7 linked regions of the Homo sapiens genome follow. The protein of the gene in region 1 purifies or fractionates together with the protein of each later gene. This does not show direct contact. Each region holds a gene or a part of one and is shown in the gene's direction. Other genes may lie near its edges. The genes, in order: NECAP2, BMP2K, TES, PHOSPHO1, AP2A2, GLOD4 and AAK1.

Region 1 (4,008 bases):
AAGCAGCCACAGACAATATGTAAATAAATCAGCATGGCTGTGTGCCAGTAAAATTTTATTTACAAAAATAGAGGCATGGGCTGGGCGCGGTGGCTCATGCCTGTAATCCCAGCACTTTGGGATTCCCAGGCAGGCGGATCACCTGAGGTCAGGAGTTCAAGACCAGCCTGGCCAACATGGTCAAACCCCATCTCTACTAAATACACAAAAATTAGTTGGGCGTGGTGGGGTGGTGCCTGTAATCCCAGCTACTTGGGAGGCTGAGGCACGAGAATTGCTTGAACCCGGGAGATTGCAGTCAGCTGACATCATGCCACTCTAGTCCAGCCTGGGTCACAAGAGCAAGACTCCATCTCAAAAAACAAATAAACAAACAAAAAAAACAGAGGCGTGAAATGAGGACTGTAACCCTTTTCCTGTTTGCCCTGAGAAAACTTGCCAGTGGCACTTCAGACTGCAGCGTTGACCCTGAGATAACTTTGCCACAAAATGTATTGCTTTTATATTATTTTTGCATCGCTCTAGTATATCAGCTTTGGAACAAAAGACATTCTATTTATAGCATTCTGTTTTTAATAGTGGTATTTCCATTTACAAAATATAGTAATTCTGTTTTTTTTTTTTTTTTTTTTTTGAGACAAGGTTTCACTCTGGTTGCCTAGGCTGGAGTGCAGTGGCGTGATGTCGGCTCACTGCATCCTTGACCTTCCAGGCTCAGGTGATTATCCCTTAGCCTCCTGAGTAGCTGGGACTACAGGCAATTGCCACCACACCCGGCTAATTTTTTGTATTTTTAGTAGAGGCGGGGTTTTGCTATGTTGCCCAGGCTGGTCTGGAACTCCTGGAATCCAGCAGTCCGCCTACCTCAGCCTCCCAGAGTGCTGGGATTACAGGCGTGAACTACCATGCCTGGCCCAAAATATAGTAATTATTGATTACTGAAAAAGTCAAATCCTAGAAAACGCAGCATTCTTACATGTGATGTTAACATCGTTCTTGAACAGTTTTTAGCCTAAGATTCATTTGAGGAGTCTGATTTTTCCAAAATAGTTCTGATTATTCAGATGATTCTGAAATAACTCCAAGAACAGTTTTTATATTTTATTTTCACGTTGAAAATCAGTCAGATTTGCTTCAGCCTCAAAGAGCATGTTTATGTAAAATTAAATGAGGGCTGGCAGTGAGCTATATTTTTTCTACATGGGAAAGGGGTTAAGACTCTTCGGCCAGGCATGTTGGCTCACGCCTGTAATCCCAGCACTTTGGGAGGCCAAAGCAGGCAGATCACTTGAGGCCAGGAGTTCGAGACCAGCCTGGGCAACATGGCAAAACCCTGTGTCTACTAAAAGAAATACAAAAATTAACCGGTCATGTAGTTCCAGCTACTAGGGAGGCTGAGGTAGGAGGATCGCTTGAGCTCAAGAGGTTGAGGCTATAGTTGGCCTTGAGTGTGCCACTGCATTCCAGCCTGGGCGACAGTGAGACCCTGTCTCAAAAAAAAAACAAAACAAAAAACAAAACCACAAACAAAAAACTTTGGTAAATACAGTTACATTAACTATTTAAAAAAAAAAAACCATCGAGGGCCAGATTTGGTCTCTGTGCCAGAGTTTGCTGACTGCTGCTCTAGAACATTTAGGAACTGGCTTCTTAGAGCTTTTTCTGTCCAGAGAGAAACCAACTTTTATCTGCTTTGTATTTTCAAAGATCTGAACTCCCCCACCCTTCCCTGTCTTCTCTTTACAGATCAACTTCCAGCCAGACCCAGCCAGGCACAGGCTGGGTCCAGTTCTGACCTGAGCACGGTTTTTCCTCATGTGACTTCTGGGAAGGCGCTCCCTCATCTGGGCCAAAGGAAGGAGGACGAAGCCCTCCTCAGCTGGCCTGTGTTTGGGGCATGAATCTCTCCTCTCCTCCTTGTCTGGCTCTGTTGACAAACCGGGCATGTTTGGCAGTAAATTGGCACCGTGTCACACTGTTTCCTGGGATTCAAGTATGCAACCAGAACACAGGAGAAGAAAAGCTCCAGGATCCCTGTCCCCATCTGTCCTCTTGATGTGAGAGAGACTCTGAGACTTCTTCCATCGCAATGACCTGTATTAAACACAAGCCCCCCAAGCAAAAGAAGAGGTTGAGTTTGCTGCCAGGATTCAGATCAGCCCTTCCCAGGGTCTGCAGGTGTCACATGATCACAGTTCAGCGGGAGGCTTTCCGTACCCACACTGGCTGTAGCCACTTCAGTCCATCTGCCCTCCAGAGGAGGGGTTTCTTCCTGATTTTTAGCAGGTTTAGAGGCTGCAGCTTGAGCTACAATCAGGAGGGAAATTGGAAGGATTAGCAGCTTTTAAAAATGTTTAAATATTTTGCTTTGCTAATGTGCTGATCCGCACTAACTCATCTTTGCAAAAGGAACTGCTCCCTCGGCGTGCCCCAGCTGGGGCCTCTGAAGGGATTCCTCACTGTGGGCAGCTGCCCTGAGCTTCAGGCAGCAGTGTTTATCTCTGGCCAGTTGTCTGGTTTCCATGTATTCTAGGCCAGGTAGGCAACACAGAGCCAAGGCGGGTGCTGGAAGCCAGACGGAACAGTGTTGGGGCAGGAAGGTGGATGCTGTTGTCATGGAGCTGTGGGAGTTGGCACTCTGTCTGCTGGTGGCCCTCTCGGCTCACATGTTCACAGTGCAGCTCCTGGCAGACTTGGGTTTTCTCTTTGGTGGTTTCTAAAGTGCCTTATCTGCAAACAACTTCTTTTCTCCTTCAGGAACTGTGAATGGCTAGAAGAAGGAGCTCAGTAAACTAGAAGTCCAGGGTTGCTTGGTTTACTGGTTTATAAGAAATCTGAAAGCACCTCTGACATTCCTTTTATTAACTCACCTCTCAGTTGAAAGATTTCTTCTTTGAAAGGTCAAGACCGTGAACTGAAAAAAGTGTTGGCCTTTTTGCGGGACCAGATTTTTAAGATAAAATAAATATTTTTACTTCTGTCATTGTATGTGAAAGATGAATGTGTTTCTGGCCGCGTGGCTGTTAAACTCTTCAGGGTGCCACAGCTAGACTCACGGCCACTTCTCTCACCACTGACCAAGTGTCCAGATTGAAAGTTCAGGGCTGGGGTGTGAGGCTGGCCAAAGTGAGGAAATGCAACCTTGTTGTCTAAGGCAATCGGTACCTTCTCTCCTGTGTTCTCTAGGATAGTACAGTCTTTTCATCATCCTTTGGTTGATGTGAAAGTAGTTGCTTGAATCACTTTGTGTGGGGCTTAATTCTCTTGTGGCGTCTCATGATACAGGCCGTTCTAGAGAGCCTGGCCCCTTGCTTTCCGTCTTCCACCAAACCTACCGGCAGAGCATCTCCCTAAGTAGTAAAGGGGTGCAGATACCCAGAGGTCAAAAGTAAAATTAAGAGGCCGGGTGCAGTGGCTCACGCCTGTAATCCCAGCACTTTGAGAGGCCAAGACGGGAGGATCATTTGAGGCTGGGAGTTTGGGACCAGCCTGGGCAACATAGTAAGATGCATTTCTTTCCTTTTTTTTGAGACACAGTCTCAGTCTGTTGCCCTGGCTGGAGTGCAGTGGAGCAATCTTGGTCACTACAACCTCCGCCTCCCAGGTTAAAGTGATTCTCCTACCTCAACCTTTCCAGTAGCTGAGATTACAGGCACCTACCACACCGAGCTAATTTTTGTATTTTTTCAGTAGAGATGGGGTTTCACCATGCTGGCCAGGCTGGTCTCAAACTCCTGACCTCAAGTTATCTGCCCGCCTTGGCCTCCCAAAGTGCTGGGATTATAGGCGTGAGCCACGGCACCCGGCTGTTAGACCCCATTTCTTAAAAAAAAAAAAAAAAAAAAAAATTAGTGTGGTGGTGGTGCATGCTTGGAATCCTAACTACTTGCGAGGCTGAGGTGGGAGAATTGCTTGAGCCCAGGAGTTTGAGGCTGCAGTGAGCTATGATCACGGCCTCGCACTCCAGTCTAGGCAGCAGTGAGACCCTAGAGAATTCTCTAAAAGAAT
Region 2 (4,653 bases), on another chromosome or scaffold:
ACGTTTGAGGATACTAACATTGATGAAAAAAGAACCCTTCTCTCCCTCCTTGCATTCTCTCCCCACTCTTTTTATCTTCTAGGATTGAACAGTTGCATTTGAATGTAGGGTAAGTTTATTAGAGGAGAATATAGAAATTATGGTATATTAGTATATTGCATTAAGTGTATATCTTACTTTTTAGTTAATTTTTAAAGTTTATTCATAGGATTTGCCTAGGGTATAATTTATGGAGCTTATAAATAAATATCCATTTAGGAGACAGTGTTAATAGATCCATTACAGTGAGCATTTATTAATCATCTTTTGTATAAAAGGTTTTTTGGGACTCTTAACAGATGAGTAAGTCATCATCTCTTCCCTCAGGGTCCCTGGTTAGGAAATAGCCATGTAAGTCATTAACATGTGCAAGACAGACTGAAATGTAATAAACTGAGTGGAAGTGCTAGATGAAGGAATAAGGAAGAGAGGTTTGAGCTAAACTTTAAAGAATAAGAATTTCACTAGGTGGAAAGTGGCATTCTAGACAGAGAATTATATTGGTACTAATACATACTCATGATAGTACATGATATTGTTGAGCAGTGTAGAACAAACTAACATGGATGTTGTGTTCATGGAGAGCCGAAGTATGAAACATGAAGTGTTTCTAAGATGTTGACTTGTTCAGAGTTGTAGACGACAAAATTAAGCTTCTTCGGTACTTACAATTAAAGTAAATCCCTATAAACTCTATGCATATGGAAGTTTTTGTGTTATAAATAAGGATATAAATGCCTTAGTTAAATTATTATTGAAATGAGCATGTTGAAATCCAGCTTTTTAATTGAAATCATTAGTATGTTAATGTAAGTGTTTGGACCTGTCTTTAGGGGCACTAAGACCTGGAAATGGCCCTGAAATTTTATTGGGTCAGGGACCTCCTCAGCAGCCGCCACAGCAGCATAGAGTACTCCAGCAACTACAGCAGGGAGATTGGAGATTACAGCAACTCCATTTACAGCATCGTCATCCTCACCAGCAGCAGCAGCAGCAGCAGCAGCAACAGCAACAGCAGCAGCAGCAACAGCAACAGCAGCAGCAGCAGCAGCAGCAGCAGCACCACCACCACCACCACCACCACCTACTTCAAGATGCTTATATGCAGCAGGTAATTTTTTTGTTTCTTTAGATATGGAAGTAGTGTGAAATTGATGCAGCAAATTGAATATCAGTGAATTCCTTTTTGTATCATGGGCACCTTGAACTCTAGATTTGAGTAAACACTTTCCCCAATTTTCTAATTATGAAAGAATACGTATTTAATTTGCAATCAGTGAAATACTTAAGAATACTGTAAAATAGGTTGCATTGTGGCCTTATGAAGAAAAGAATGTTCATCTGAAACATTTAGTATTCACAAATAAGCACTGCAGTTTATAATGAATATTATCTGAGGTTACGTTTTGAGTTCACAGACTAATAATGCTATTGTTGGAAAGGTGATATTAGGCTTTTCAGAAGTAACATTGTCTTAGATTTTTGTCACCCTCCTGGTTTTGGTTGATAGATCCAGAGTGGAGGGTAGTAAGTAGGTGGTACCATGGGATGCCCAGAAGACACCACTGAAGGGGAGATTTAGTGTAATGGGGCTTGGTTAGAAGTCACTCAGGTGTCTTTATCTTCTAGGAAAAGGTAGTAAATGTGTTTTGGTAGCTTTCTTCTAAACATCCTTAAATTGTGCTAAAAATGGTTTTAATTGAATCTAATTGTTGATAATTTTGAAACCAGTTCTGATAAGCATATTTATTAATAAATTATAGTAATTTAGAGTATAGCTATTTTGTATTGATGTTTGGACTACTGATTTCTCAAATCATTATGGTAAGATCAATACTTTAAAAAAGGGCTCTGACACAAAAAAGGCATAACATTTATTAATTTGATTTTCTCGTTGTAGTATCAACATGCAACACAGCAGCAACAGATGCTTCAACAACAATTTTTAATGCATTCGGTATATCAACCACAACCTTCTGCATCACAGTATCCTACAATGGTAACTTAAATAATTTCTAGAGATTTCTCTGAGTATACATTATGGTGTTGGAATTCACAGTATGAATCATATTATTCAGAATTTAGTAATTCAAAATCAAGTAAGTTAATTGACATGTATTTTATCAAAGCCAGTCATATATTCTCAAGCAGCTTTAAATTGCACTGAACTATGGCACCTGAATATGGCACATAGTAATTGACCGATAACGTACTTCTCTTATGTCATTATATAAGGGAAATGATGTCTTACCTATAGTCTTTCGTCACATGTCTCTTTCATTCAGCACATATCTATTGAGTAAAAAAATGAAACCCAAAGGGAGAGTATATTTTCTTCAGAGAATAATTTGACCTTTTTTTTTTTTTTTTTTTTTTTTTTAACAGCAACCACTATATTAGTGACTTTAAGCTACTCTTTTTCTTAAAATACTTAAAAGAGGATTTTTGATTCTGGCCAAGTGAGCCTACCTTTACAACTTTTTAAAAAGATTTATTTCATCTTGCTGTAGTTTTCTAGTAATAGAGCTGCTTCTGTAGATGATTGTTTTTTACGTTTCTGATTTTGTCACCAATGTGAAAGGAAGGAACATAGTAAATAGATGCAGTGCTGACAGTGCTTTAGGACTGGAGCATTGTTTTGTATAATATCATTTCTTTTTTCAGATGCCGCAGTATCAGCAGGCTTTCTTTCAACAGCAGATGCTAGCTCAACATCAGCCGTCTCAACAACAGGCATCACCTGAATATCTTACCTCCCCTCAAGAGTTCTCACCAGCCTTAGTTTCCTACACTTCATCACTTCCAGCTCAGGTTGGAACCATAATGGACTCCTCCTATAGTGCCAATAGGCAAGTATTTTTCCAGTGAAAGCAAAGGAAATTATTGTGGAAGTGGAAGTCATCGTTGAATGGTCGGTCATTAAGTTCTCTTAAATTAGTTTAGAATTTATCTTTCTGTAGAGCCACCCATTCTCTCTTCCTAGTCCTGTCTTCTGGTCCCTTGGCATCCCCATCCTTCCGTTTCCTCAGTTAATTCTGCTAACTGCTATTTGTAGGTAAGGTGTAGCAACATCTAACAGCATTTAGGGCTAAGGATATTATTGGCTTGTATGTAAAGGCATTTTTGGTAATGTAAGTATAAACAACACCCTAACAAGTGACTTCAGCAGTTAAAAAAAAATCCTTGTAGACTTTCTCTATTTACATGTTATTACCTTTGATTAATTTTACTGTTTACTCATAAAGGTTGTATAATTTAATTTAAATAGGTATAAACATTTTTACATATATGTATTTTAAGATGATATATAGTATACATACTGTTACCGTAACATAGTTGGTAATAGTATATTTTGGCTATTGAGACATATTGGTTAGTAGCGTTATAAATTAAATAACTTTGGTACAAAATTTCTTAAACTTATACAAAATGGCACGTGCTTTAGCATCTTGTAACTAAGAATCATCATCAATGCCTCCTAATGTTTTTAGATACCTAGGAGGTAGGAGCTGTTAGACTTCTGTTACATGAACACTGAAGTTCTCATACAATGCTGTTTAAGGATTTGAAACATTAGCTGAGAAAAGGTGTCTATAAGCTTTGGCTCAGAGTTGAGCAGGAGAAACAGCAGCATCAGTAGCATACTTGTACACTGCATCTCAAAAGAGAGCTAAAGTATGCAGTTTGCTATAGAATGCCTCCCAACCTCTGTGTGTGTGTGTGTGTGTGTGTGTGTGTGTGTGTGTGTGTGTGTGTATGCATGCATGCATGTGTGTGCACATGTGCAAGAGACAGATGGTGGGGCGGGTATGGTAGAGAGGGAGACAGAAACGAATGGATTTCTTGAACTACTTTTCTAAAGTAAGAATTGGGGTGGATGAATTAGGACAATTTTGTCTAAGGAGAGAGCAGAGTATAGGTCAAAGGCCAGTTTAAAGGTCCAGATCAGGCAGGGTGCGGTGGCTCATGCCTGTAATCCAAGCACTTTGGGTGACCAGGGCAGGCGGATCACGAGGTCAGGAGATCAAGACCATCCTAGCCAACATGGTGAAACCTCATCTCTACTAAAAATATAAAAATTATCTAGGTGTGGTGGTGCGCGCCTGTAATCCCAGCTACTTGGGAGGCTGAGGCAGGAGAATGGCTTGAACTTGGGAGGCAGAGATTGCAGCGAGCTGAGATCATGCCACTGCACTCCAGCCTGGCAACAGAGCGAGACTCCATCTCACACACACACACACACACACACACAAAAAGTTCAGATCAGTATTTGCCGAACTCTTTGTCATTTATCTACTCTAGTTAAAATTTTTTGCTTTATTCACATAGTGCTTTTTTCTTTAATAAATTAGTAACATTATTGTGTATAATAAAATTAAAACATATTATACATTTTAAACAAATAAGATCCACTAAAATATAAAGTATGAAATGTAAATAGTAATCTAATAAATTTGCTAAGTCCCCTAGTGATAAGAATGGAATAATTTTCCTCATTAAAAATCAGATATTCTGCTTGATAATTGCTTAAAGATACTGATGAGGCTATTGTACTAATTAGATGATTGCTTTTTTCCACTTTTGATGCTAACTAGCATAAAAAATGTCAAATCT
Region 3 (4,653 bases), on another chromosome or scaffold:
TTTCAACCAAGAATCTTAACTTTCTCTAATCCTCCTCTTCTCCGCCTCTACCACCCCAGAAAGAATTCCATAAATTAAAGGTTTTAGAGAGAATCCCATGATATAACAAATCCCTGTTTCACTACGTTGTCTTCACTGATGATTCTTAGAATCCTCAACTGGTAAATTGGAAGCTATTAAAAAACCGCAGAGATGTCCCGTATGACTCCAATTTGTGAGTCCCTTAATAGGCTTGATAGTCTAACAAAAAGTTTCCCAGTACAAAATTTGGAAATCTCAGGAATGTATTTCACAATCTTAGCCATACTCTCAAAAAGAAATTTATGTTCCTTTTAGCAATTGTTTTCTAACACGTCCAAAGAAGGAAATATTACAAGACTATCTGATTTACCAGCAGAGTCCTCACCCTATTTTGGTACCTAGTTTTCAAGTCTCCTTTCTTTTTGACTCAGTTATTCAAGAAAATTTATAGTTTGAATGTACCTTGAGAAAAGGAAGATTAAAAGTTGGAACAAAGATACAACCATTTAAATACAACTAATATGACTTCTGTTTTAAGATGTATGACATTTTTTCCTTCTAAAACTTTTACATTGTTGATTTCATGAGGAATTTCTTCCAGACAGATGAAAAGCATCATTGTTCCACATTAACATTTCATGTAAAAAGAATTAAGGAGGACTGTCTTTATTAAACAGTGATTGAGATAGATGATACTATTATAAAATTCTTGGTTTGTAAAAGGAAAGCTCGTCCACATCAGTTGTACAAATTGGGATTAATTACCAGTTAAAACCCACCATCACAAAGACAAGGGGTTTTTATAATTAGATTTTGCTATATTTTGTTTTGTTTGAAGAAAGCGAGCTGTTGCTAGGATGTGGGAGCTAGTTTGGTTATACAAAGTTTTTGTTTTAATAATACTTTAGAACAGAATTGATTCTATGTCCTTGCCCTGTCTTCTGAGTTACACATCTAGACCTCTTTCTTATTTTTTAAGTCTCATCTTAATTGGCTTTGTGTCAGTATGGTCCATGTCTGCTTGGGAAAAACAGTGGACTTTGAGAAGCAGAAACAGTCTCATTTTGCGGTGAATGGTAAATCATGGCCAACAGCCAGCTGTTTTCCTCTTTCCTTTCTGTGTTACTCTCCCATGAGAAATATTTTTTTTCAATTAAGAACATACCAACAGAGAAAGAGAACTACAATAATTTCCCTTTTACTGCCTGGAATTGCTGCAGGGCTTTTTCATTTTACCGTGTTCATTTTTTCTCTCCTCTAACCCCTTTATTTTGATTAATCCTAATATTTTGCATACTTTTCTTAAGACTCTTATTTCTTTAATTTTACTTTTTAAAAATATGATGCATTTTAAAGATTACATGTTACTAAAAATCCCCTTTCTCTGTATCCAAACTTGTTTTCAAAACCTTTGTCATTAGCCAAAAAAGCATAGTGAAACCAAATGAATACTATTGGAAAAAGGACTAAACTACAAAGATTATTTCCATTGGAAATTAGAATGAGTTATTTGCCTTAGGTAGCCCCTGGTTGAAGTGGAAAAGGCAATATATGGTGACCTGGATGCTCAAATCTACAATTGCATTCCAGGCTTGAAGCCATTCTTGCTGCAAGAACCATTGGCAAGACTAAGGGTAAAGGTAGGGCAAGGCACATCCAGGGCTTTGCTTTAGAGGTGTTCTGCCTCTCTGAACAAGTGCAGAAGAAAATGAGTGGTCCTCGGCCAGGCTTTTATAAAACTATTCTAACCCATGGTGTGATTCATTACATTGGTAGAATATGAAAAGTCCCTTTCTCTTAATTGTCCTGAATATTGGTTGGAGAAAAAAACTATAGTAGGTTTTCTATTGATTCTGTTCCTTTATGCTGTCCTATGAAGTAGAAATAGGAATTTATATTGCTACTGGCTATTACCTATGTCCCATCAACTCACCCTATGACTTTGCTTGTGCATGCCCATACTCCATCTACAGTTCTAAATTTTTTCCATCCTTCAAGGACCAACCCTTCACACTGCACACTCCTCTAGGAAATCTTTCTCCATGCTGCCACCTAGATGAAAAATATTTTCTCCTTTTCTCCTGAATTCCCAAAACATGTTATTGGTAACACTTAGGACACTAATCACTCTCCACCTCTGGATTATACTTATCTGTTGTATGTTTCACCTTCTTACCTTGCTTACAAACTTCTTGAGAGATGAATCCATATCCTGTTACACTTACGTGGTTATTTTGTTTGCTGTTCAAAGCAACCTTAGGAAGTAGGCCTTAGCCCCATTTTCAGGATGAAGAAACTAAAAGTTTAGATAGCGTAATCTGAAACCTTACTATAGAGAACTTTACTATGAACTTGAACCATAATTTGAAGAATCCATGCTGCTTCCATCATGCCAACTAGGCCGAGTCTTATATTCTTCATCTTGCTCACTAAATATATGTGGAATGATAACTGTTATAAAAAGAGAAATAAAATAAGGTACATTTCAACACTTTCACTCATTTTTTAAAGGAATTATATTTGAGGAAGTGGTTTATATTCCAATAAAATCACCATCCTGCTAGTTTTCTATATTTTGTTTCTACTTTGTCCATGTTGTATGTATTCCCTTTAGTGTAAGTTGCCATTGACATTCTTTGGGCAGAGGCAAAGTATACGAAAAGTAAAAGTATTGTGAAAAGGAGTTTCTGGGAAACTTCTACAGTCAAAGAAATAGCATAAACTCCAATAATATTCTGTACCTTATCTTCTAAGATTCTCCCAACTTCCTGACTTTTGGTGTGAGCCAATGGTAATGCTGTCTCCTAACTATGTAAAATGGCCCTAGGTAACAGTGACCCTGTATTTGGCTCTTTGTTTTGTTAAGTTTAACCAATGGCATCTGGAACTATAAAGGGATGCTCGTGGTCTTTTCTCGTGTTGAGCTCTGCAGTTGAGAGAAAGCCTTACACATAGCATGAGTAGGCTAAACCTCTTTTCCCTTGTAGCAAAGTGTTCAGAGTGCCTCTGGAGTGGCAGACCAGACAGCTAAGAATGGAGCAGCTAAAAAGAAACAAAAAACAAACAAAAAACCTCTTAATATTGGGAGAACTATTTTTTTGTTTTAATTTCCCATTCTTCATGCAAAAACATTTCTTATGAAGCTGAGAAGCTGTGGGAAACACCAAAATGATCAGATATTTCATGAGGCTCTCATGGAGCTCCAGAGTGACATCCAGCATTGTTAGCATGCGATCAACATCATAGACCATCAGTGTGCAACACGAGTTACCAAGAGGGGCTTTCTTAGTGGAAAGAGAGTGATAAATTGGTAACATGGAAGCTACTTCCTGTGTTCTTTTTCTGAGAACTAGAAGAAGGAATACAAGTTGGCCCCATGCTAATGTGTATATACCTTTTTTACATACCAATCACTAGTGTGTTTAGAAATTAGGAAAGGTCAGTAAGTCTCCAGTATATATAAACATCTATAGTGTATGGAAAGGTCTTCCATAGTGTATCCGTTTTCTCACTTCCATTTATCAGTATAATATATTTAAAATTGCCCTAAGCTGAGAGTTGGTAGATCCGAGTCCACTATTTTTTGTGATATTAACCACTTTGGCTATCAATTTCTATTTATATAAAAATCAGTAGGGGAACCAGATGATTTCTGAGGTTTCTCCAAGTCCTGTGACTCTTTGATCGTGGGAAATAATATCAGTAGTCTACCATGTGTAATGTTCCACAGTGCTTTAAAATCACACAAATGAAGAACATATATGTATAAATATATACATAAAGGAGATGGCATAGTTTAAATGTTAGTGAATTCCATGAAGAACCTATAGATTGAACCAAATAATTTTTTTCCACAAATCTTAGCTATTTTCAACTTGTTTGTACTTAATTTTCATAATATTTGTGGAGGTATTTGAAGATATTAGGTTAAGTTTAATTAATTTAAATCTGTAGTATAAGGCTCTGAAGGCTGTAATAGTGTGGGTCCCATAAGTCTAGGAGTGATGTATTACTTACCTTGGTATTTAATTATGGGAAAATGAAAAATAATGGAACATTTATTTTCTTTAAAAGTTATCTCTCTCAAAATAAGGCTGTTAAAATAATTTTAAAAGATTAAAAAAAAACTATATGAGTGCTTTTTTACGTACCATGCACTGTTCTAGACTCTGGGGTTATAGTTGTGAACAAGAATGACACTGAACTTAAGCTTGTATCATAGAATTATGCTATTGCAAGTGTTGATAGAGCAATGTAAATATTGAAAGTAAGCACAACTGGAATTATACCCGTCAGTGAACTCTTGATAGGTTAGCAGTACGCTATGTTTCTAACACAGACAGTGAGCAATTTTGATGGTGATCCCTGGGCTTGATTCTTGGTTTTGCAAACTTTGTAATTAGGGATTCTTATTTCATTTGTCTTAAGTAATAGCAAATGTAAAAGATGGGAAAATGAGAAAGCAGCTTTTATGTATTAGAATGTGAAAAAGATTATGAATGCATAAAGCTATACAAATAGACTTACACCTATAATATACACAAACTATAAGTCTTCTCCCTGCCTACAAATGCCTTACAAAAGAGTCATTCTTGGATTTCCTGTTTGCAGTCATAGCTAATTTTTGTTTGG
Region 4 (3,963 bases), on another chromosome or scaffold:
CCAGCCCTACCAGCTGGGTGACCCCAGACAAGCTCACTCTTTTTTGTTGTTGTTTTATTTTGTTTTGTTTTGAGACAGGGTCTCACTCTTTCGCCTAGGCTAGAGTGTGGTGGTGTGATCACAGTTTACTGCAGCCTTCACCTCCCAGGCTCAAGCTATCCTCCCACCTCAGCCTCCCGAGTAGAGCTGGGACTACAGGTACATGCCACAATGCCTAGCTAATTTCTTAATTTTTTGTAGAGATGGGGTCTCCCTATGTTGTCCAGGCTGGTCTCGAACTCCGGGGCTCAAGCGATCCTCCCACCTTGGCCTCCCAAAGTGCATTCTCCCCACCTACACACCCCTTTGTGACCCAATGGAGTCAGGTGTGTCCGGGTTTGAACGGCTAGGCAAATAATTTCTCGAGTGTTGTGAACATTCAGCCATAAACGCAGCGACCTAGCTCGAATGCCCGGTTCATAGTATGTTCTCAGTAAATACTAGTTTCACGTCTTTCCTCTCGAAACACTATCTTCTCTCCTTCTCTTCACTAGCAGGCTTTGAGGGCCAAAAGGAGGAGATTAGGGTGGGGGAGAAACACACTCTTAGGAAGCAGGGGAGAAAGTGCGTTTTTTATTTATAGGGCCATCTGCAAAAGGGGCAAACTGTCTGTCACCACCCGCTCCACCAACTTTACGGGCGGGGGTGGGGGTAGGGAGTCATTCCTCCCGCCAACCCCCGCAATCCTCAGTAACCTATAATCTGGGGAAAAGGGTCCCGAGGGCTGGGTCATCCCGTGCCTCCCACTGGGTTTAGGACGCGACAGCGGAATGGGCAGGAGGTGGAGGTGCACTTCTGCAAATCTCAAGAACCGAAGCCCTGGAGGCGGCGGATGAGAAAGTCCACAGCCCTAGCAATTTTGGGTGTGTAGGCAGGGATTTAGCGTATGTCCACAGCCGCTCTAGTGAGGGTGCCCCCACCCACGTTCCTCGGAAGGGCAGCGCTCCATCCCCACCCTGCTACCCTTTCCCCGAGAGCCTAATCCCACCTTAGCTGGCGCTCCCGGAGCCTCCGGGGCAGGAGGGAGGCGTGGCCTCGGGCGGCCCGCCCCTTTGATGTGCGCCGGCACCGCTGCGATTGGACAGTCGCTTGTGACGTTGGGGACTGCGGTGGGCTCCGCTGCTGCAGCAGCCGCAGCGCCGGCCGCGGCTCCGGCTCCGGCTCCGGCTCCCGGGCATTTAAAGGGGACGCGGCGGCTGCCCGGGGGGGATGAGGGGCAAGTGGAGGGGACGGCTCAGACGCACATCATCCTCAGTCCCTCGGGACTGGAGGGACTCGTGAGCCGGAGCCCAGAAATCCGGGGGTGGATAAGACACCGCGTCCCCTCCAATTCCCGTAAGCACCCCTTGCTCCATCCTGCGCCCCAATACCTCAGCTAGCCCCCTTCCCCACTTCTTACACTCCAAACTCAGCCGGGACAGACCTCTGCTGCCGCCGCCCCCACGTGAGTCCTGGGCTCCGGGAGATAGGGGAGGGCTGGGGTCCCGGCGCGGGGTGGGGGCTGTGGAGTTTGAAGGCGCTCCTTCACGCGCGTGGCACTGGGGGAGTTCTGGAGCTCAGGAGTGAGTCCCCTTCTCTCTCCTACCCAGGAACATAGTGCTGGGGTATCCCTCCGTCCCCGACTCTGACAAAGCCAAGGAATTGGTGTCCCCTTGCTCCCTGCCACCCACAATACCCCTCCCCGAGCCGCGCACCCCCCGCCCGCATTGGAGCCCAGCGCCCGCCAGCCGGGGGTGCGCCAGAGTGCTGGCTTCCTAGTCACCTCTAAAAATATCTCTCCCCCAACCCTACCGGCAGCTGCCACCTCCCTGCCCCTGCCCCTGCCCCTAGGATCCCCTCCCAGCTTGTCCTCCCACCCAGGGAGTGCCCAGAGGTGACTGCTAGACCCAGACGCCTCACTGGCACCAGGGCGCAGGGCCACCACCGCCAGCTGGTCAGGACCGCAAGCTCCCTGCCCACTGGAGTCTCCAGGGCCAAGGGGGGAGCTCCAGCTGCAATTCTCCCAAGAGGCGCCAGAGACTCCTGAGTTCTAATCGCGGTTCCGATGCTGTGTGACCCCTAGGATGTTAGCCTGACCTCTCTGGGCCTCTGTTTTTCCTATCTGCTGCTCGGGCGTGGTGAGCAAGGAAGATGGTCATGTTTGGGAGCACTGTCTGGGAAAGGGAGGGAATTCTAGCTTAGTTGTTGGATCTGATTTCTAGTGATTGATACAAGGAGACTTGTTTTTGGACAGAGAGGGCTTGTTACTGTGGTCTTTCTGGAGTCCTCGCCTCCCCATCCTCATTCTGCACATTTCCTTTGGAAAACTATCCCAAAACTTTTCTAGGAACTCCATCTGCCCAGTAAGAGGGGAATTTGAAACTTAGGGCCTGTATCAGAGAGGGGCCTGTTTCCCTCCCACCCCCTTCCCACAGATTTAATCTAAGAGCATTTGTGTGAAAGGCGGGAGAAGCAGGCAGGGATCTGTGACCCGGTGCAGAATTAAGGAGGCAGGCACTGCTTTTAGGTGGGACTAGAATATGGACTCCCTGCAACCCCCCAGAAGCCCTTCTCCCTGCTCTGGCCTGTGAGAGAAGCTCAGATCCTGCCCCCTACTCTGAGGGACTCTGTTTGGTGACCACAAAAGGATTTGATGACTCAGAACAAAGGTGTCAGAGGTGAGAGACCTTTTGGAGCATCACAGGAGCCAAATTCCAACTGGGGAAGGGGTTCCTCTGACTCCTGTGGGGTGGGGACGAGGTGTCACAGCATGGCCTTCTCAGTTTTCTGGGGAAGAAACCCAAGATGCCTGACTTTCTGCCTTGGAGACTGAAAGAAACAAGGGCAACTCACCAAACAATAAGTGTTTAACTGAATCCCCTAGATACTATTATTAGCAGAAAAATGTAACTGTATTTTATGATGAGAAATGAGGAGTTTTGTGTGTGTGTGTGTGTGTGTGTGTGTGTTGGGGATGGGGTTACTCCCTCTGTCACCCAGGCTGGAGTGCAGTGGTACCATTACAGCTCACTGCAACCTCTGTCTCCTGGGTTTAAGTGATCCTCGTGCCTCAGCCTCCCAAGTAGCTGGGACTATGGGCACAAGCTACCATACCCAGCTAATTTTTTTTTTTTTTTTTTTTTTTGAGACGGAGTCTCGCTGTCGCCCAGGCTGGAATGCAATGGCGCAATCTCGGCTCACTGCAAGTTCCGCCTCCCGGGTTCACGCCATTCTCCTGCCTCAGCCTCCCGAGTAGCTGGGACTACAGGCGCCCGCCACCACACCCAGCTAATTTTTTGTATTTTTAGTAGAGACAGGGTTTCACCATGTTAGCCAGGATGGTCTCGATCTTCTGACCTCGTGATTCGCCTGCCTCGGCCTCCCAAAGTGCTGGGATTACAGGCATGAGCCACCACGCCCGGCCTTAATTTTTGTTTTTAAAGAGACAGGGTTTTGCCATGTCACCCAGTCTGGTCTCAAACTCCTAGACTTAAGTGATCTGCCTGCCTCGCCTCCCAAAGTGTTGGGATTACAGGCTTAAGCCACCCTGCCTGGCTGAAAAAATGAGAAGTTTTGACCATAATTAATGATCAATAGAATAGAAAAAAGGAAGGAAGGAAGGAAGGAAGGAAGGAGGAAGGAAGGAAGGAAGGAAGGAAGGAAGGAAGGAAGGAAGGAAGGAAGGAGAGAGACAGGAAGGAAGGAAGGGCAAAGTAATGAGACCCTTCTCTATAGGATGAAAGCTGGTCTCTGGGTAGCTGTTGGTGACCCCTTGGAATCTTTGTATCTACCCCTTGCTTCTCCAGATGCTGCATGTTTGCTTTTACAAGGGGAGTGGCATCCCTGACCTTTCTCTTATAAATCGCCTGGCTGAGGTTGGACATGTGATATCAGCTGGGAATCTGGAAGGTTGGAAGTCCCTCCAGATAGGGACTGGGGACAGCT
Region 5 (4,588 bases), on another chromosome or scaffold:
AGTGAGCTGAGATCTTGCCACTGCACTGCAGCCTGGGCAACAGAGCGAGACCCTGTCGTTCATTCATTCATTCATAAATAATGCATACATCATTATTTATGTATGCATAAATAACCAAAAAGGAAAAAGAGTGTCTGCAGGGCGTGGTGACGTTGGAGCCTTGTACGCCGCTGGTGGGAATGTACAGTAGTGCGGGCACTGTGGGAAGTTCCTCAGAACACAAAAGAAGATGGAATTACTCTGTGACCCAGCAGTTCCACGTCTGGGTACAGACCCCAGAGAATTGAAAGCTGGGTCTTAAAGAGGTACCTGTCCACCCATGTCCAATGGCAGCACTATTCACAATCACCGAAAGTTAGAAACAGCCCAGATGTTCATGGGTGGATGCCTAATTAAACGAAATGTGGTCTGTCGACGCAGTGGAATATTATTCAGCCATCAAACGGCAGAAAGGAATGAAATTCTGATGCATAAAGCAGCACACATGCACCTTGAGGACATGGTGCTCAGTGACACGGGCCAGACACCTGGACAAATCCTGTGTGGCTCCACTCATGCGGTCCCTAGAGCAGTGACTTCGTAGAGACAGAACGTAGCTGGGGGATGCCAGGGCCTAGGCCAGGGGGATGGGGAATTGGTGTTTAATGGGGACAGAGTTCCGTTTGGGAAGATGAGAACGTTCTGGAGATGGTGGTGGTGGCAGCAGCTGCACAGTGTGGATGCACTTCCTGTGCCCTTGTGTGCACCTAAATATGGCTAGGAAGGTGAATGTTAGTGTATTTTACCACAATTTAGGAGAAAGACATAAAAAAGCCTTTGAGTGTAAAAAAATGCTGTGCACGGAACCCTGTGGCTGCAGGGGCCCTGGCTGCGGACCTGCCTCCTCTCAGCGCCTGCCTTGAGCCTCCTCAGGACTGCTCTCTCTCTCATCTGTGAAAAACACAGAAAGAATGTGAAAAAAGAGAATTAGTCCTCTGCCCGCCAGGGGTCTGTTAGAAAAGTGAGGGTTGTCAGAGTGATTCCTGTGGGAAACGCTGCATTGAAAACAGGTGGTGCCTTTAGTCCTGGTTTAAGTTTTTAAGCTCTGGGCCGTGATAGCTTCACGAGGTGTTGGTTTTGGGTTTTTAAATTGTGGGAGGAGTGATGCCAAACTGTTTACTGTTTTCAAAATATTTGAGATTTCCTTTCTGAATTCAAGGGGTATACAGATGTTCACAAAGATTTTTTACTGTGATATAAATAAAAACAGCGACACATCCTAAATGTGCACCTGTGCCGTGGCTGAGCCGCTGCAGTGAGGGCTAGTGTGCAACACCGATGCTGTGCTGGACGCGTGCCCAGCCGGGTCCCCTGACAGGAGGCAGCCGGGGCCGGTGCGTGTGTTTGCATGTTGCAGTCATGGGGCGGGGCCGGCAGAGGCCTGTGTGATTGTGGCGTCCCTGGAAAAGATGCTTGGCAGGCCCCTCCAGCTGTAGCCCAGCCTGCAGACGGGGCGTTCTGTGGGTCCTTCCCCGTGCATATGCGTGTGATCTCACCCATCCCGTGTGGGTGCGCAGGAGGGGCCGAGGGAGGAGGGTGCTGGAGGGCGGAAGTTACCTCTGACTGGAGGAGATACCCGGCCCGTGTTACCAGCACTGGTGTGCTCGTTCTAAAACTGGAAAAAATTTGTTCTTAATTTTAACAACAGTCATACATCACAACAGTGAACTTAAATTCAGCTGAAGATTGTGGGGGGCTCTTGTTTTTCAGGGTAAATATTCAGGGTAAGTGTGAAATGGTGTGTGTGAAAAAATTGTTTTTGTTCCTTCTAGGTCGGATGTTTATCTTTTATGGTAATAAGACCTCCACGCAGTTCCTAAACTTTACCCCAACACTAATCTGTTCAGACGACCTTCAGCCTAATATCCTTGGCTTCATTGCCCCATGCCCGCAGACAGCATAATGTGGGGCTTAGAGGAGGCTTTTGAGGAAGTTTTTTGGTTTTCTTATTTTGTTAAAATAGCGAGATAATTCCAGATGCTATATGAAAATCAGGCAGTCGTAATCTGCCTATGGTGCTGGGCAGGAGAAGGAAAACAGGCAGTCTTCCATATTGGAGAGCCAGCTTTTGATCATGCACCTAAAAATACCGTGTACATGCCTCCTCCCCTTCCATCTGGCCAGTGTGAGTCCCTTTCCTTTTCACCTGCTCTTACTCTCCTGTGACGTGATCTTTAAACCCCTCCTCTCCGAAGCCTCACAGAGCTGCTGCTTGCAGAGTGTGGGAGGCGCCAGTGGGGACTGGAGCGCGGTGCGCACCCCAGCCGAGCTTGTGTGTGCTTCTGGCAGAGCTTTTAGACTGAAGATTTTCCCTTCGTAATGCCAGAAGCGTTCCTAGAACTTCCCCAGCTAAAACAGGGAGACGCTAACGTCTCTACCTCTAAGGATAGGCCCGCCAAATAGAGTTAGCGTGAAGACCCCAGCTTGACCAGAGATGGTGACACCTGGGGATTTATGGTCAGCGACCTGAGTGAAGCAACATCCTCCTTGCCACTGGCTGGTCTGTTCATTTTAACATGAACATGTTTTAATGCAGACTGTTCAAGCTGTTTCAAAACAGTCATTAAAAATACACATGCAGGAGCACCTGTATTAAAGACTTTGTTTGGAATCTGGAGTGGAAGCTCTGACTCCTACTGCGCCCTTCTTTAGGGGTCTCTCCCTCGGGGTCCACTTGGCTCGAGGCGGCAGCGAGCCCAGCAGCTGAGTGGCCGGCGGCACACGACCCAGAGGGAAGGAGAGGCCTGCACCCCGCTGCCTCCTGGACCCAGCTTTGCTGCTGTCACTGTTTCTTCAGGAGAGGCTGTAGGCAAACCCTTGTTTTCCAGCATGAAAACAACCCTGGTCCCAGCAGGGCAGGCTCTTTTCTGTGTCTCGCTGTTTCAGGAGCCTGCTATTCCTGGGATTCTTAAAGTTTTCCTGCCCTACTAAGCACCAGTTTCTGCTAACGGTGACAAAAATTGTGTGTGTAAGACCCAGAGCCGAGGCTCAGAGTGAAAACAGACAAGTAGTATATAATCTAAGTGACTTTTTAAAATGGAGGAGCCATTCTGGAAGCGTGAGAAGCAGACAGTGTTTTGAGGATTGTCTGGGTGGAAGGGCAGGGCCGGGTGGTGTGGCTGCCCTCGACCCGTAGCTGGTGGTCCTAGAGTGTGGTGAGTGTGCTCGCCTCCACGGGTCCTGCTGGGGCTCTAGCCCGGCCCGTTTCCGCTTCTGCCACTGGGACTTGCTCAGCTGGATTCCTTAACGCACGCACACCTGAACCTGCAGACCAAGCCCGTGGACCCGACCGTGGAGGGGGGCGCGCAGGTGCAGCAGGTGGTCAACATAGAGTGCGTGTCCGACTTCACGGAGGCGCCAGTCCTCAACATTCAGTTCAGGTAAGAGCCGCCTGTGCGCCCCGGGCCAAGGGGTGTGTGGGCGCCTGAGCTGTGTGCCTGGGCTCCATGACTGTGCCTCCGTGTCCTTCCTGAGGGGACCCGGGGCGTGCGGGTGCTCACGGTGCATGGATGCGGCCTGAGCTATTGCTGCCCCCGGCTCTGCAGAGCGCAGGAAACAAGGGGAGGCGGAGCCCTGGGCTCCGGGACGGCAGGTGGCAGCTCCCACATGGGGCCTTGCTAGGATCTTTCTGGGCACCATGGGGCCCACCTCATGGGGTGGCAGACAGCCAGGGCCCCCGCGCCACCTGCCCGGCTTGGTACCAGACGACAGCTGTGGGGTGCAGGCAGCTGGTTTCCTTCGGCCCCCTGGCCTGGGGGGCGCGTTTTTTGCTCAGTTGAGCTCAGATCGTACCACTTTGCTTATTTTTTAAAAGCATAGGATTTTCCTGTTGCGACTGTTCATTACTCTCACTTTTCAGTGACTACAAATAGCGTGGATACAGTCAGCCCGTCCCCTGCTGGGTGTCTGCAAGGTTAGGAATGTTGAGAAAAGCACACTTTCTAACATTAAAAAGACAGAGAACTTAAGATTGTATACTGTAGAATTCGGGGACATAGACATGCAAGTTTTTGTTTCATTCTTTGTGCAAATGCCTTTGCCTTTTTAAAGAAAAAACATCACACTATTTGCACAGACTTGGAGTTCTGGGAAACAGATGAATGGGGAGAAGTGAGGCACAGGGACGTCCTGCCTGAGTATGCGGCCCTGGCCTGTCCTCCTGTCTGTGGGTGACACTGGACACTGAGCCACACACGATCCGTGGGGACTGAAGGCTCGGCCCCCCGACCCGCTCTGGTGGGTGGCAGTAGATCGGGACGCTTCTCACTCCAGGCTCTTTCCCGGTCCCTGGGGCTCTCAGAGGAGTAGCTGACTGTCTCTTTCTGCTGCTGCTGCTGCTGGCAGGTATGGGGGCACCTTCCAGAACGTGTCTGTGCAGCTGCCCATCACTCTCAACAAATTCTTCCAGCCGACAGAAATGGCTTCTCAGGATTTCTTTCAACGTTGGAAGCAGTTGAGCAAGTGAGAAACCTGTTTCCTGTAGGGGTCAGGGGTGGGGACGGGGCTCATTTGAAAAGGTGGGTTTTGGTCTCTGGCCTGGCTGAGAACA
Region 6 (4,378 bases), on another chromosome or scaffold:
TCTGCCTCCCAGGTTCAAGCAGTTCTCTTGCCTCAGCCTCCTGAGTAGCTGGTAGCTGGGATTACAGGCACGCACCACCACACCTGGCTAATTTTTGTATTTTTAGTAGAGATGGGGTTTCACCATGTTGGTCAGGCTGGTTGAGTAGGCCGGGTGCGGTGGCTCACACCTGTAACCCCAGCCCTTTGGGAGGCCGAGGCGGGCGGATCACAAGGTCAGGAGATCGAGACCATCCTGGCTAACACGGTGAAACCCTGTCTCTTGAACTCCTGACCTCAGGTGATCCACCCTCCTCGGCCTCCCAAAGGGCTGGGATTATAGGCGTGAGCCACTGCGCCTGGCCATCCTACCATTTTCATCTTCCTGACAGTTTCTCCTCAGACACGGGCACCTCTTTCTGTGTCTCATCCCAAAGTGTTTTTATACCCATAGCCCTACTTTGCTGTTTTTCCCATTCTGCATTCTTCCTCCACTCTGATGAGAGCTTACCTGCGACCTCTCCTTACCTCTGCCCTGAACGTAACCATCATCCTGGCTCCAGCCTCCTCACTTCCAGTTTTTAACTCCTTCCTCAGCTCAGACAGGTGGTTGTTGTTGATGAGGCATAATTTAGGTAGAATTTAAATGTGTTTTGACGGTTGTGTTTACTCATACAACCACTACTCAGAATACAGACCATTTTCCCAGGAAGTTCCCTCATGCCCATCTCCAGTGAGTTGGCACCTTCATCTCCCAGATCAGCTGCTATTCTGACTTCTGTCACTGTAGGTGAGTTCGTTCTTGGACTTCATACAAATGGAGTCATTCAGTATTTTCTTTCCTTTTGTGCCTGGCTGCTTTTACTCACCATGGCTTTTTTTGTTTTTTGTTTTTTGTTTTTTTTTGAGACGGAGTCTCGCTCTGTCACCCAGGCTGGAGTGCAGTGGTACAATCTCTGCTCACTGCAAGCTCCGCCTCCCGGGTTCACGCCATTCTCCTGCCTCAGCCTACCGAGTAGCTGGGACTACAGGCACCTGCCACCTCGCCCGGCTAATTTTTTGTATTTTTAGTAGAGACGGGTTTCACCGTGTTAGCCAGGATGGTCTCGATCTCCTGACCTTGTGATCCACCCACCTTGGCCTCCCAAAGGGCTGGGATTACAGGTGTGAGCCACCGCGCCCGGCCTACTCAACATGGTTTTGAGATTCCACCATGTAATTGCATATCACAGCTCTTTTTTTTTTAATTGCTGACTGATACTCAATTTTATGAATATAACAATTTGCTCATTCATTCTTATAATGGTGGACATTTGGTTTATTTCTAGATTTTTTAATCTATTATAAGGAAGACTGCCATGAACATTCTAGTGTAAATCTTCTTGTAGATAGATGTTTCATTTCTCTTGAGTAAATACCTAGGAGTAGAACTGCTTTTACTGTATAAGAAAGTGTCAAACAGTCATCGAAAGTGATCGGACCATCGTTTGTCCACGAGAGGTCCAGTAGGTCTACATTCTCACCAACACTTATTTTGCTTTTTGTGGGTTTTTTAGCTATTCTAGCACATGCGAAATGGTTTCATTGGTGCAATCAAGCGATCCTTCTGCCTCAGCCACCACATAGCTAGGGCTGCAGCACTATGCCCAGCTGATGTTTTTTATGTTTGTAGAGACAGATTCTCACTGTGTTGCCCAGGCTGGCCTCCAGTGATCCTTCCAGCTCGGCCCCACAGAGGTTTAATTTTTATTTCCCTGATGACTAATGATATTGAGCACCTTCTCATGTGCTTATTAGCCATTTACTTATTTTTGTGAATTTTATGTTCAAGTCTTTTGTCCATTCTTTAATAATTTTTAATATTTCATGATGAAAATTCCAAATATGCACAACCGAAGAGAGTACGACAGAGCCTTACGTGACTCTTACCTTGACTCTGTACTGTAGTTTTTCATCATTCCTTCGTCACTTGCAAATTCAAGTATTTTTCCCAGCCATTAATTGAGTTTTTGAAGATGAGGAATTTTTTATTTTGGTGAAGTCCAGCTTATGAACTTTTTCTCTTACATGTAGCACTTTCTCTGTCCAGACCGATGTTATATCCTGAGAACCTCTTCACCTAGGAAACCTACCACATATCAGACTCAGCGTGTCCATAACTTATCTTACCTCAAATCCATTCTTCTTCCAGTAATATTACATAAAGGCTACTTGGGAGTGTAGATTCTGGGAAACCTGAATCTATGTTCCCGGGCTGCAGTCTTCAAGCTTGGCCCAGATGAACTCTCTATTTATACTAAAAATATGTAAATAAATAAAAATAAAAAGAAATAAATGCTACTATATCGGTACGTTCTTAAGTGCTTTATTTTTATTTATTTATTTATTTTTTGAGATGGAGCCTCACTCTGTTGCCCAGGCTAGAGTGCAGTGGTGTGATCTCAGCTCACTGCAGCCTCCGCCTCCCAGGTTCAAGTGATTCTCCTGCCTCAGGAGAGTAGCTGGGATTCCCGAGTAGCTGGGATTACAGGCACCCGCCACCATGTCCAGCTAATTTTTGTATTTTTAGTAGAGACAGGGTTTCACCATTTTGGCTAGGCTGGTCTCGAACTCTTGACCTCAGGTGATCCACCTGCCTCAGCCTCCCAAAGTGCTGGGATTACAGATGTGAGCCACCGCATCCAACCTTAAGTGCTTCATATACATTCTCTGATTTTTTTTTTTTTTTTTTAGACGGAGTCTCGCTCTGTCGCCCAGGCTGGAGTGCAGTGGCGTGATCTCGGCTCACGGCAAGCTCCGCCTCCCGGGTTCACACCATTCTCCTGCCTCAGCCTCAGCCTCCCGAGTAGCTGGGACTACAGGCGCCCACCACCACACCTGGCTAATTTTTTTGTATTTTTAGTAGAGACGGGGTTTCACCGTGTTAGCCAGGATGGTCTCGATCTCCTGACCTCGTGATCCGCCTGCCTCGGCCTCCCAAAGTGTTGGGATTACAGGCGTGAGCCACCGCGCCCAGCCACATTCTCTGATTCTTAATATAACCTGCAAGGTTGATAGCATCAGCCTTTGCAAATGAGGAAACCGAGGCTAAGAATGAGTAAGTCATTGGCCCTCACCCTTGAATACCATACACTGAGTAAGTGGCAGGCAGGGGCCTGGATGGTGATGAAATTATTCCCCTTCATCCCTGAAGATCACGCACTGAGTAGGTGCAGGCCGGGGCCTGGATGGTGATGAAATTATTCCCCTTCATCCCTGAAGATCACACACTGAGTAGGTGCAGGCAGGGGCCTGGATGGTGATGAAATAATTATTCCCCTTCATCCCTGAAGATCACGCACTGAGTAGGTGCCGGCCGGGGCCTGGATGGTGATGAAATTATTCCCCTTCATCCCTGAAGATCACGCACTGAGTAGGTGCCGGCCGGGGCCTGGATGGTGATGAAATTATTCCCCTTCATCCCTGAAGATCACGCACTGAGTAGGTGCAGGCCGGGGCCTGGATGGAAGCCTTTCAGGCTTTACAGTTAGTCCTTTTTCTTCCTCTGCGCCCTGCTCCCTCCCTGGACAGTACAGCGTGTCTGTGATCCCAGTTGTTCACGCTGGAATCCTCAGAGCCAGTTTTGGTGTTATTTTGTTGTGTTTTGTTTTTTAACATTTAATAGTCGTTTTAGATTTACAGACAGTCACTTTTGACCATTATTTCTCCTCATCCTTAAATTATTTTAGCTATTAGTCACCAAGAGCTGTGAGTTCTACCTCTGAAATGTCTTCTGCCTATCAGCTTTCCCTTTGAAAGGCCTCATTGTCAACTTACGGTCTGTCCCAAAGCAAACAGCCAGTAATTTTTAAAACCGTTTAATCCGATAGCTCTCTCTTGCCTCTGAGATAAATTTCAAACTCTCTGACAGAGCATGTGACATTTTTGGACATTCTCTACCCTCTGACCTTCTTTCCCACCTGCCTCCCTAAGTCCCCTAACTCATCCCTATTCCAGTCCCACTGAACTGGTTATATTAGCTAAGATACTTCTTCTTGCATCCAACCCAAAGGGTTTTTTCCCTCTCCTCTTTTACTTGTCCTTCAACACTTAAAAGCTTTCTTAGGTTCAGCCGGGCGCGATGGCTCACCCCTGTAATCCCAGCACCTTGGGGGACCAAGGCGGGTGGCTCACCTGAGGTCAGGAGTCCCAGACCAGCCTGACCAACATGGTGAAACCCTGTCTCTACTAAACACAAAAAATTAGCCAGGCACGGTGGTGTACGCCTGTAATCCCAGCTACTTGGGAGGCTGAGGCAGGAGAATCACTTGAACCCAGAAGGCAGAGGTTGCAGTGAGCCGAGATGGCGCCGTTGCACTCCAGCCTGGGCGACAAGAGCAAAACTCCATTTCAAAAAAGAA
Region 7 (4,653 bases), on another chromosome or scaffold:
CTAATGCACGTGGAACTTTGCACCCCAGATTCTTCCCATGGTCATTATCAAGTGAAGCCCTCAAAAACATGAGCGAAGAGCCTAGAAATACTCAGGGAGATTTCTCACCCCAACTCAGAAATTTTTTTTTTTTTTTTCAAGACGGCGTCTTGCTCTGTCGCTCAGGCGGGAGTGCAGTGGTGTGATCTCGGCTCACTGCAACCTCCATTTTCCGAGTTCAAGCGATTCTGCCTCAGCCTCCCGAGTAGCTGGGATTATAGGCACACACCACCGCGCCTGGCTAATTTTTGTATTCTTAGTAGAGATGGGGTTTCACCATGTTGGCCAGGTTGGTCTTGAACTCTTGACCTTGTGATCCACCCACCTTGGCTTCCCAAAGTGCTAGGATTACAGGCGTGAGCCACCGCACCTGGCCCAGAAATTCTTTTTTTTTTTTTAAATTATTATTATACTTTAAGTTTTAGGGTACATGTGCACAATGTGCAGGTTAGTTACATATGTATACATGTGCCATGCTCGTGTGCTGCACCCACTAACTCGTCATTTAGCATTAGGTATATCTCCTAATGCTATCCCGCCCCCCTCCCCCCACCCCACAACAGTCCCCAGAGTGTGATGTTCCCCTTACTGTGTCCATGTGTTCTCTTTGTTCAATTCCCACCTATGAGTGAGAACATGCGGTGTTTGGTTCAGAAATTCTTAAAGTAAGAGATCATTCTAATTCCCCTTTCCAAATATTCAGGATTATCTCTGTAACAGCCCAGCAAAATGTTTTTCCTTTGGTTATTTGATAATTCCCTTCTAATCAAGTGACTATTTTAATTCTCAAGGTGCAAATCAGGATAAAATCATGGTGATTTTACTACATAGTTGAATACTTCGTCAAGTATGAGCTTGTATCCTTTTTAAATTTTTCACTGGAGGCCAGGCGCGGTGGCTCACGCTTGTAATCCCAGCACTTTGGGAGGCCGAGGTGGGTGGATCACTTGAGGGTAGGAGTTTGAGACCAGCCTGGCCAACATGGTGAAACCCTGTCTCTACCAAAAATACAAAAAGTAGCTGGGCGTGATGGCACGCACCTGTAGTCCCAGTTACTAGGGAGGCTGAGGCAGAATTGCTTGACCCAGGGAGGCAGACTTTGCAGTGAGCCAAGATTGTGTCATTGCACTCCAGCCTGGGCGAGAAGAGCAAAACTCCGCCTCAAAAAAAAAAAAAAAATTGTCACTGGAGACATGATGGGTGGAGACTCTACATACCTTCTTTGAATACAGAAACGGATGCAAACACATGCAAATTACTTTTTTTTTTTTTTTTGGTGATGCATGAAAAAACTTTGACTTGTGGATTACATTAATTATTAGTAACAGTTAGATTCTGCCGACTTGTATTACAGTAGGGTCTTATTTCCTTAAAGAGAAAAAAAAATACAGTCATGCCCCACTTAATGATGAGGGAGACATTCAGAGAAATGCATCCTTAGGTGATTTTGTCATTGTGTGAACATCACAGAGTGTACTTAACACAAACCTAGATGGCACGGCCTACTACCTACCTAGGCTATATGGTCCAGCCTGTTGCTCCTGGGCTACAAACCTGTACAGCATGTTACTGTACTGAATACTGTAGGCAGTTGTAACACAATGGTAAGTATTTCTGTATCCAAACATTTTAGACATAGAAAAGGTACAGTAAAAATATGGTATAATCTTATGGGACCATCATGGTATATGTGGTCCATCATTGATGGAATCGTTTTTATGCAGCACATGACTGTATATAATCAACAAACAACTCTACTTTCTTGTTTTCGTTTGTTGTGTTTTTGCTTTACACATTTGATAGGGAACATAGAAGTTGTGACCTTTCATTTCAGTGGAAAGCATTGAGCCAGAATATATTTATTCCTAAACCATCGAGCCACACATGCATTGATGAACCCTGAAAGAATCCACAGTAATTGACTAACAGGCAGTACTGAATGAAAGATGTCATATGTGGTGAAAAATATTTAATATATCAGTTTCTTGGGCTCACATACAGCCCTTTAGTTCCAAGTGCTTGGTTAGATTAGAAAATGGGATGAACACAATTTGATGCTGAAGCAGCTGCTGAGCAGCACCCAGGGAGTCTAGGTCATACGCCCTATATTGTTTTCGGCCCACTTATTGTTGAGTTGAAAAGTCTCATATTTGTAGACTAGAGTGTATGTGTTTAGAGGCTCATGTTGTATCTGAGTTTTCTCTGGCAACTAAGATCTCTTTCTAAACGTTCTAGAAAGATACTGGTATCTTACTGGCCCATTATTTAGTAAGTTTTAGAATACATGTACATCAGTGTTTTCAACTGCTTGGTGGACATTTCACTGATGCATAATCAAAGTAGCAGATTATAATCATCAGAGTGATCTGACAAGGAAATTCTGTATTTGCTTCCATAAAGAAAAATAATCAAAACATATATCAGATATAATATATATGCAGTATATCACATAGGAAATTTTATTGTAGGAAATTAGAGAAGGATGCTACTCAATTCATTCTCTAGCAGGAAGAATACAGCTTAAAAATCACTTGGGTCCCTTTAATAAAGAAAAGTGTGATTCTGTGTTGTGTGTTTGGAACTGAAATTGGAGAACACGTGCCAGTCGACTGTGAAATGGTTGCTGGATAAAACCACAGATGTGGTTTTATCCGAGAAATGTGGGACTGAAATTATTTTGATGAGAGGTACATAAGAGAGCTGCAGAAAAGACTGTAGCTTCTGAGGAGGCAGGAGTACCTTGTTAATATCCAAACCACCCCTGAGTTCTAATGTTCCAACTCCACCTAAACGAGGAATTGGAAACTTTAAATGGAATTATCTAATTTAAATTCTTAGTTTTTTCTTTGTCTTTCTCAGCTGATACTTGTAGTTTTGTTTTGTTTTTTAACCACCAAGAACACTTGCAAGTTTGTTACTGAAAACATCACTAAAGGAAAAGAAGAGTTTCAAAATGCTTGAAAAGTAGTATGTGGTTGGGAATTGTTTTTGTTCAAGTCCCTGGAAGTCCTCTTGGCTTAGCTCCCTTGTTCCTGTTCCCACTTCATTTCCTTACTTAACATTCCCCTATTTTGAGCATGTCAATAAGTGCATGATGAATGGCACAGTTGAATGATCATGTTAACTTTAATTGCTTCCTTTGTTGCTGTAAACAGTTTCTTGTTAAGTTTCAGCCAAGTCTGTGACAATCTCACCAAATAAGAATGAAATGGGCGGGGTGTGGTGGCTCACACTTGGAATCCCAGCACTCTGGGAGGCTGTGTTGGGCCGATCGCTTGAGCTCATGAGTTCAAGACCAACCTGGGCAACATGGCAAAACCTTGTCTCTACAAAAAATACAAAAATTAGCCAGGCATGGTGGTGCACACCTGTAGTCCCAGCTACTTGGGAGGCTTAGGTGGGAGGATGGCTTGAGCACGGGAGGCAGAGGTTGCACTAAGCCAAGATCGTGTCACTGCACTCCAGCCCAGGCAATAGAGCCAGACCCTGTCTCAAAAAAACAAAACAAACAAAACATGAATGAATGAAATGGCTCACCTTCCCTATTATGAACTAGAAGAAAGGATGAAGGAAGGTTGGCAGGACCCCAGCCTTACTCTGTAGTGACAACCCAGAGGTACTTTTCCCGGAATGCAGGGTCAAGTTTATGTGTGAAGGGACTCTAGAATAGCTGGTAAAAATGGCTACATGGTAACCATTCTTGACTTAGTCCAGTATTCCCATAATTTGTAATTCCATAAATTTATTCTCAGCTGTCCCCCAGCCATTTCTAATAGAAGGATGTGTACCCCAGTTTTGACAATGTTCTTGAAATCAAGTTAGTGTTACCTGCATTGCATTATAATGGAACTATATGTACATGTTAAAGGGATCCGTTTGATTCCTTTCGGCAAGGAATTGCAAAAATAGTTTTTACCAATACCAGTTAAAATAGGATAGGTTAGACTTTGGGGGCAGGGTGAGACAGTGCAGCCTTTTCACTCTGAAATGGCAAATCAGCTGTACTCTTTGAGTCTACCAGAGATTCCTATTTGAGTGTGAATGGGGTGTGTGTGTGTGTGTGTGTGCTCATTCATCTTCATGCTTTCTTCCATGGTGTTAATTCAAGCTCTCCTAATAAAGGTATCCAAAGAGTACTGAGAAGTGACCATAGGTATTTGGCATGAGTAAATGTAGTTCCTTTTGCCAAAAAAACTCTCAAAAGTTACAACTGGAGTTCTTCGCGATAAAAGGTTGGGGAAATCAGCCATGGCTTTAGCCTTGTTCCCAAGTACACATCTTCTTATCCACAAGGATGAAACTCTGTAGGGCTCACCCTGAGGGCTCATGTGTGGCATTGAGAGGGTAGCAGTGACCAGAACACCACAAGGCCCACAAGATGTTTTGAATGAGGGAACATTTAATGTCATTTGTTAGGAGATAGAAACCAAATAATAAAGGACAAGGACCACGCTCATTCCGTGGAGAAGAGGTGAACTCCCTCTGCTGACTATTTGGAATGGACTGAATGAGGAGGTCTCTCCAGCCAGAAGGAGTATTGAGGTCATCAGGCCTCAGAAAACAATGTACACATAATCTCGGGCTGTGAACAAGAGAAAGGAGGGGGGGAAACAT

What was found.
Region 2: the proteins of NECAP2 (region 1) and BMP2K purify together in Homo sapiens (affinity purification with mass spectrometry; one large-scale study listed by BioGRID and IntAct). This does not show direct contact.
Region 3: the proteins of NECAP2 (region 1) and TES purify together in Homo sapiens (affinity purification with mass spectrometry; 3 studies listed by BioGRID and IntAct, with this or other methods). This does not show direct contact.
Region 4: the proteins of NECAP2 (region 1) and PHOSPHO1 purify together in Homo sapiens (affinity purification with mass spectrometry; one large-scale study listed by BioGRID and IntAct). This does not show direct contact.
Region 5: the proteins of NECAP2 (region 1) and AP2A2 purify together in Homo sapiens (affinity purification with mass spectrometry; 4 studies listed by BioGRID and IntAct, with this or other methods). This does not show direct contact.
Region 6: the proteins of NECAP2 (region 1) and GLOD4 purify together in Homo sapiens (affinity purification with mass spectrometry; one large-scale study listed by BioGRID and IntAct). This does not show direct contact.
Region 7: the proteins of NECAP2 (region 1) and AAK1 purify together in Homo sapiens (affinity purification with mass spectrometry; one large-scale study listed by BioGRID and IntAct). This does not show direct contact.

What each region holds. Positions count from the first base shown.
Region 1 is NC_000001.11:16,457,096-16,461,103, forward strand, and holds the end of NECAP2 (adaptin ear-binding coat-associated protein 2), read left to right. Parts: intron 1-1,746; coding exon 1,747-1,795; coding exon of another isoform or gene 1,796-1,901; 3' UTR 1,902-2,983; downstream 2,984-4,008. UniProt on the Homo sapiens protein: Involved in endocytosis.
Region 2 is NC_000004.12:78,869,911-78,874,563, forward strand, and holds part of BMP2K (BMP-2-inducible protein kinase), read left to right. Parts: intron 1-872; coding exon 873-1,150; intron 1,151-1,939; coding exon 1,940-2,038; intron 2,039-2,703; coding exon 2,704-2,888; intron 2,889-4,653. UniProt on the Homo sapiens protein: May be involved in osteoblast differentiation.
Region 3 is NC_000007.14:116,212,814-116,217,466, forward strand, and holds part of TES (testin), read left to right. Parts: intron 1-4,653. UniProt on the Homo sapiens protein: Scaffold protein that may play a role in cell adhesion, cell spreading and in the reorganization of the actin cytoskeleton. Plays a role in the regulation of cell proliferation. May act as a tumor suppressor. Inhibits tumor cell growth.
Region 4 is NC_000017.11:49,227,988-49,231,950, reverse strand, and holds the start of PHOSPHO1 (phosphoethanolamine/phosphocholine phosphatase), read left to right. Parts: upstream 1-1,163; 5' UTR 1,164-1,483; intron 1,484-3,963. UniProt on the Homo sapiens protein: Phosphatase that has a high activity toward phosphoethanolamine (PEA) and phosphocholine (PCho). Involved in the generation of inorganic phosphate for bone mineralization.
Region 5 is NC_000011.10:1,004,717-1,009,304, forward strand, and holds part of AP2A2 (AP-2 complex subunit alpha-2), read left to right. Parts: intron 1-1,811; coding exon 1,812-1,901; intron 1,902-3,295; coding exon 3,296-3,419; intron 3,420-4,383; coding exon 4,384-4,500; intron 4,501-4,588. UniProt on the Homo sapiens protein: Component of the adaptor protein complex 2 (AP-2). Adaptor protein complexes function in protein transport via transport vesicles in different membrane traffic pathways.
Region 6 is NC_000017.11:761,513-765,890, reverse strand, and holds part of GLOD4 (glyoxalase domain-containing protein 4), read left to right. Parts: intron 1-2,051; coding exon of another isoform or gene 2,052-2,201; exon of another isoform or gene 2,202-2,329; intron 2,330-4,378.
Region 7 is NC_000002.12:69,458,161-69,462,813, reverse strand, and holds part of AAK1 (AP2-associated protein kinase 1), read left to right. Parts: 3' UTR 1-1,102; coding exon of another isoform or gene 1,103-1,147; 3' UTR 1,148-4,653.